Linked DNA regions of Homo sapiens: region 1 is linked to region 2. A link means that fine-mapping ties the variant in region 2 to the expression of a gene that starts in the linked region. Tissue or cell type: subcutaneous fat. Region 2 holds a variant in brackets; the other region holds the start of a gene. All regions are shown on one strand. Distances are between the middles of the regions.

Region 1 (2,500 bases), 69 kb before region 2:
CAAAATTACCACCGAGCCTGTCGGCAGCCATTTAGTGCCTGCTGTATACTTGCCAAGCGCCACGCAGGGCCCTTCGGGTCAACCCTGTACCAGTTGGCCCAGCTGCGAAATGCGGCGATCGTTAGGGTTAAATTAGTAAAATGGTCTACAGTGCTTTGAACAATGACCGGCTGGTGGTGTGAAATTATTACCAGGCCGAGACCAGCCTGGAGCCGGCTCCTGCCTCGTGCCGTCCCGCAAGGAGGTCCTGCCCCCGGGCTTGCCTTCCAGCCAGTTGGGGCCTTTGCCCTTTTTCCTGTCGCCTGCCACTAAGCTGCTGCTAGGAACCCCGGCTGGAATTTAGCTCGCCTCCGGCAAAGTGGTGGGGGCGGGCCCGGGTCGGGGAGGCCACATCACCTGCTTCCTGCAGGAACTTTTAGAAGGCAGGCAGCCCGGAACATGGCACGGTGGGGCACGGTAGGGCGCGAGGGGCCGCGCCCCTAAGGCCTAAACTCAACATAAAGTTTCTTCTTTGCCCTCCAGCCCAGCCCCAGGGTCGGGGCGCGTTTATCGCGCCGCGCACAAGCGTGAGGAGCGGGGGTTTGCGGGGCCTCTTGACTGTACCTGGGGCTGCACCTGCCAGGAGTGCGGAAAGGCGCAGGGCCGAGGTCCCCAAGCCCAGAGCGGGCGGCAGCTGCGGGCGACCTCGGAGGGCAGAGCAACCTCGGAGGGCAGGGCGTCCCCGCTCCCGGCACGCACCAGTGCCCGCGCACCCCAGCTCGCACGTGGCGCTCGGGCCCCGGCTGCACGCGCACGCGCGCAGGGATGCGCCACGTGCTGGGGCCCCACACGCGGGGAGGCTGCGCTCGGCGAGGGCGCGCGGTCCCACGGGCGGGGAGCCGGGCCCCGCGACCCACCCGCCTCGGGCCACCAGTCCCCTCCCAGCGCCCCGCGTAGCCTGGTCCCGCGCCCGGGCTCCCGGGCTCCCGGGCTGGCACCGCGAGGCGGCGCGCCGGTCGCCCAGGGCCGCCGAGGGGCGGGGCCGCCCGTATTGTTCCTCCCCGAGCGGCTGGCCCTCCCCTTCCCCCAGACCCGGGCGGGGCGCGGGGCCGCCGAAGCCGCGGAACGTGGGCTCGCGCGCCCCGCCTTTGTCTCCCGGGCGCGAGCCGCCGCAGCCCCGCGCCCGCTGCTCGCTGCGGAGCCGTTTTGTGCCGCGGCGCGGGGGAACGGGGACGCGGGGCGGGGGGCGCGGAGCCGGCGGGCGCAGCCTCAGCATGGACGTGACAGTCTCGGAGCTCCTGGAGCTCTTCCTGCAGAGCCCGCTGGTGACCTGGGTGAGTGCGCCTGGCTCCCCGCCCCTTTGTTGGTGCACCGGCTTCTCTCTAGCCCGGCGACGGGACGCCGCAGACCCGACACGGCCGGGGCCCCGGGTGGCTCCGGGGCGCGAGGGACGCAGCAAGTGGCTCCCGGCCGGGGTTGGGGCCGCGTCCTGGAGTCCGGAGCTTTGTAACTCTGGAGCCGGCGCCCCCGTTGTGCGTCCGGCGCGGGACCCCGCCGCGCTTTCGGCCGGGCCAGGAGCCGGGCGGGTACACCTGTTCCCGCTGGGGCTCTAGGCTGGCTGCCTCGGGGCGGACCGGGTCCCAGTGGTCACTCCTGTCCCTGGGGTTTAGCCACTCCCGAAAAGGACCCCATTCTTCCCAACCAAATATCTCATGTAGTTTTTCTGAATCCCTGAGACCAGCCGGTGGATGGCGGTGACGGGTGGGGAATGGGGGGCGCCGAATGGGAAAGCGAACAGACTGGGGTGGGCGCACTGATTTACAATGGATTTGAGACGTGAGACATTTATTGAAAAGTCCTTTTTATTTTTATTTCTTCCGCTCTGGAACGCGGGAGAAAAGTGGCGAGGAAGTTTTTCCTCCTGTCTCGTGTCTGTTGCCCCGCGCGGGGAGGGGAGACAGGCCCTAGGAGAAGGCCGGGCTTGGTGCCTGCTGAAGGGTGGTGTGGGCGTGGGTGACCCCCTTCTGCTCACACTGACCCGTCCAGTCTCTGCCTGGGAGAGCTTTGGACCGTTTGTGCGCACGGGGTGACTTCCTGTCTTTCTCTCCTCGTCCCCCTCCCCGCAGGTGAAAACTTTTGGCCCGTTTGGAAGCGGCAGCCAGGACAACCTGACTATGTACATGGATTTAGTGGACGGCATCTTTTTGAACCAAATTATGCTGCAAATGTAAGTTACCTTCTTCTCGGAGGAAGGAAAGAATGGTGCGTTAGAAAGTTTGAGAGTAGAAATGGAGTGGAAGGTTGCATGGCGGGGTGTGTGTGGGGTGGGGGGTAGTTCTCTGAAGGTGGAGACGCTGGTATCTCAGTATTAACGTGCCTGTTGGACATTCGTAGGTGTTTGAAGAACTCCAGGACAGTGGGTCTGGCAGTTGGTTTGATGAAGGAAATTTGGAATTGAATGACTGTCATTTACGTGGTGTAGATAGTGCAATTGACTTCAGACTCAAGGACTTAATTGTGG
Region 2 (2,830 bases):
GCTCACACCTGTAATCCCGGCACTTTGGGAGGCCAAGACGGATGAATCACTTGAGGTCAGGAGCTCAAGACCAGCCTGGCCAACATGGTGAAACCCTGTCTCTACTAAAAAATACAAAAATTAGCCAGGCGTGGTGGTGGGTGCCTGTAGTCCCAGCTACTTGGGAGGCCGAGGCAGGAGAATCTCTTGAACCCGGGAGGCGGAGTTTGCAGTGAGCCGAAATTGTGCCACTGCACTCCAACCTGGGTGACAGAGTGAGACTCTGTCTCCAAAAAAAAAAAAAAGTGTCTTCTGAACATGTGCATGACTACAGCTTAAAGAACCAGAGTGGAGTCAAAAAGGACTATACACATTATGTACCAGTCATGGAAGGAAGATAGGTTTTGTTCCATGTGTTAACTTCCATTAACTGGTAGTCTGTGGAGGGCTGTGTTCAGAAGGATTCTGAGGCCTAGTTCCACCCTAAGTCAGAAAGTGCTGTGATTGACTAATCATGTCTGCCATGGACTCAGAGTTAGCAAGTCGGGGAATTTTCAAACCTTGATATAATGCACATTTTAGAGGATGGTGTATTTTAATTGTGCAACTACTTTTCTATCCTCACCTCTGCCCTTAGAAACGTGTGCTATCAGGCAGTTTCCCTTTTGTTTTGGAAGCTTATGACTGTTAACGTCTGCAGCTTTCTATATAGCTTATGTTGGCCTGCCTGCATTGCATTTCTGCTAAGAAAGGCTGGGGTGAATTTCTTTGTGTCAAGACTCCAGGAAGCAGGTAGTAAGGTAAGGTTTTTCTTAGACTCAGCTATTGACTCAGGCCGTCCTGGGATTCCCCCAGGGGTTCTCCTATTCTCAACAGAGTGTAGTTGTGTTAAGTGTGGAGTGTGTCCGGTCTGATGTTTCTCGATCCCCGCCCGCAGTGGTTGCTTGTGACTTTTTTGGTGTAGAAATTCACGTCGTTTTATAACCTGCCCCCGTTTCTCCCTCTGAACAGCAGCTCGAGTAAGTGTAACCATAAAGCACTTATACTTTGACAAGCAGCGTGCTCTCTTACCTCTTGGCCTTCGCATGTGCTGTTCCCTGGGCCTGGAAAGCCCACACTTGCCTACCCGATAAGTCTGTCTCCTCCTTATCTGTGGAACTCAGCTCAAAGGTTATTCCCTTTAGAGTCCTTGCCCTGGGCCTTGCTGCAAATTAGAAGTTCCTTTCCCGGGTTCCCATAGCATTTATCAGCTTTCTGATTGCTGGTTTGGCTCCCAGCACATAGTAGGTACTTGGCAGGGAGCTGTCTGTAGGTTTGTTTGATCTTGGCCTGCTTGACTGTGTCACTGAGCCAGTCTTACTGGCAAGGACCCAGGAGGGAATCTTCTGCTGTGTTTTGAAACTATTCAAAACCCACAATCTGGTAGATTTATGGAAATAGCGGTTTTTCTTATGACTGAAATCCTGAAAGAAATTGGGCATCGGCTTCTCATGAGAAATGAGGAAACTTCTGCTTCCCGCCCTGGGCGCTTTTTAAAAAAAAATTTTGTAGGAATCTGTAGGGGTGGGGATCACAGGATG[T/C]TTTTGTTAATAAGCAAATGTTTCTATTCACTCAGCCTGGTGAGAGCAAGCATCACTCTGCTTCATTTGAATGAGGGCAGAGGTGAATTTCTTAGTAACCTGTTCATCACCAAAGAGTTTATTTTTTTCATGAATATTTTTCTAAACTTAATTCTCTACCTTTAAAGCCTTTTTCCCTCCTGTTACAAACCTTAGCAAACAGGAATCCATACTCTTCTAACCTGTGCTGTGGGTCAGATTGTTTTCTTGATGTCTAATGGGTGTTGGGATGAATGAGGGAATGAATGAACTCAGGGTTGTCATTGTGTGTGATTGCAGGGTGCTGAGAGAGTAGAACCGTTTGCTCTGTCACCAAACAGCCTCGGAGTGTTGTTTGTTTTTGTGGTGTTTTTTGTTTATTTGTTTGTTTTGGAGACAGGGTCTTGCTCTGTCGCCCAGGCTACAGTGCAGTGGCACAATCAAAGCTCACTGCAGCTTCACCCTCCCAGGCTCAGGCGATCCTCCTACCTCAGCCTCCCAAATAGTGCACCACCAGGCCAGGCTAATTTTTTTTTTTTTTTTTTTTTAATAGAGATAGGGTCTTGGCTGGGCGCAGTGGCTCACACCTGTAATCCCAGCACTTTGGGAGGCCAAGGCAAGCAGATCACTTGAGGTCAGGAGTTTGAGACAAGCCTGGCCAACATGGTGAAACCCCATCTCTAATGAAAATACAAAAATTGGCTGGGCATGGTGGTGTGCGCCTGTAATCCCAGCTACTCGGGAGGCTGAGGCAGGAGAATCGCTTGAACCCAGGAGGCAGAGGTTGCAGTGAGCTGAGCTTGCACCACTGCACTCTAGCCTGGGTGACAGAGCGAGACTCCATCTCAAAAACTCACCATTTTTTATGGCTGCATAGTATTCCATGGTGTATATGTGCCACATTTTCTTTATCCAGTCTATGGTTGTTGGACATTTAGGTTGGTTCCAAGTCTTTGCTATTGTGAATAGTGCCACTATAAACGTACGTGTGCATGTGTCTTTATAGCAGCATGATTTATAATCCTTTGGGTATATACCCAGTAATGGGATGGCTGGGTCAAATGGTATTTCTAGTTCTAGATCCCTGAGGAATCGCCACACTGACTTCCACAAGGGTTGAACTGGTTTACAGTCCCACCAACAGTGTAAAAGTGTTCCTGTTTCTCCACATCCTCTCCAGCACCTGTTGTTTCCTGACTTTTTAATGATCGCCATTCTAACTGGTGTGAGATGGTATCTCATTGTGGTTTTGA

Which allele goes with the higher level. Alleles are on the strand shown, and positions count from the first base shown. SD is a standard deviation of normalised expression in the study named.
As copies of T replace C in region 2, the expression in subcutaneous fat of the gene that starts at base 1,124 in region 1 goes up (large effect, 0.75 SD a copy in TwinsUK).

Evidence for each region. PIP is the estimated chance that this variant, and not a neighbour inherited with it, causes the effect.
Region 1: CCDC88C starts here. The variant in region 2 is fine-mapped to the expression of CCDC88C in subcutaneous fat (TwinsUK, PIP 0.92).

What each region holds. Positions count from the first base shown.
Region 1 is chr14:91,416,444-91,418,943 of GRCh38, reverse strand. CCDC88C (coiled-coil domain containing 88C) reads left to right here and starts at 1,124. Exons shown (of 30, transcript NM_001080414.4): 1 at 1,124-1,313; 2 at 2,106-2,206. The coding sequence starts at 1,254. It overlaps CCDC88C-DT (CCDC88C divergent transcript), which reads right to left and starts at 698. Exons shown (of 3, transcript NR_184261.1): 1 at 604-698. It also overlaps the pseudogene LOC112268126. RefSeq lists enhancers at 1-643, 2,249-2,500 and a silencer at 709-1,628.
Region 2 is chr14:91,347,618-91,350,447 of GRCh38, reverse strand. All of the region lies in intron 4 of CCDC88C (coiled-coil domain containing 88C), which reads left to right. Among named protein-coding and RNA genes, the nearest start is that of CCDC88C, 69 kb to the left of the region's middle. RefSeq lists an enhancer at 1,107-1,186. The variant T/C (reference allele first, on the strand shown) is at 1,560.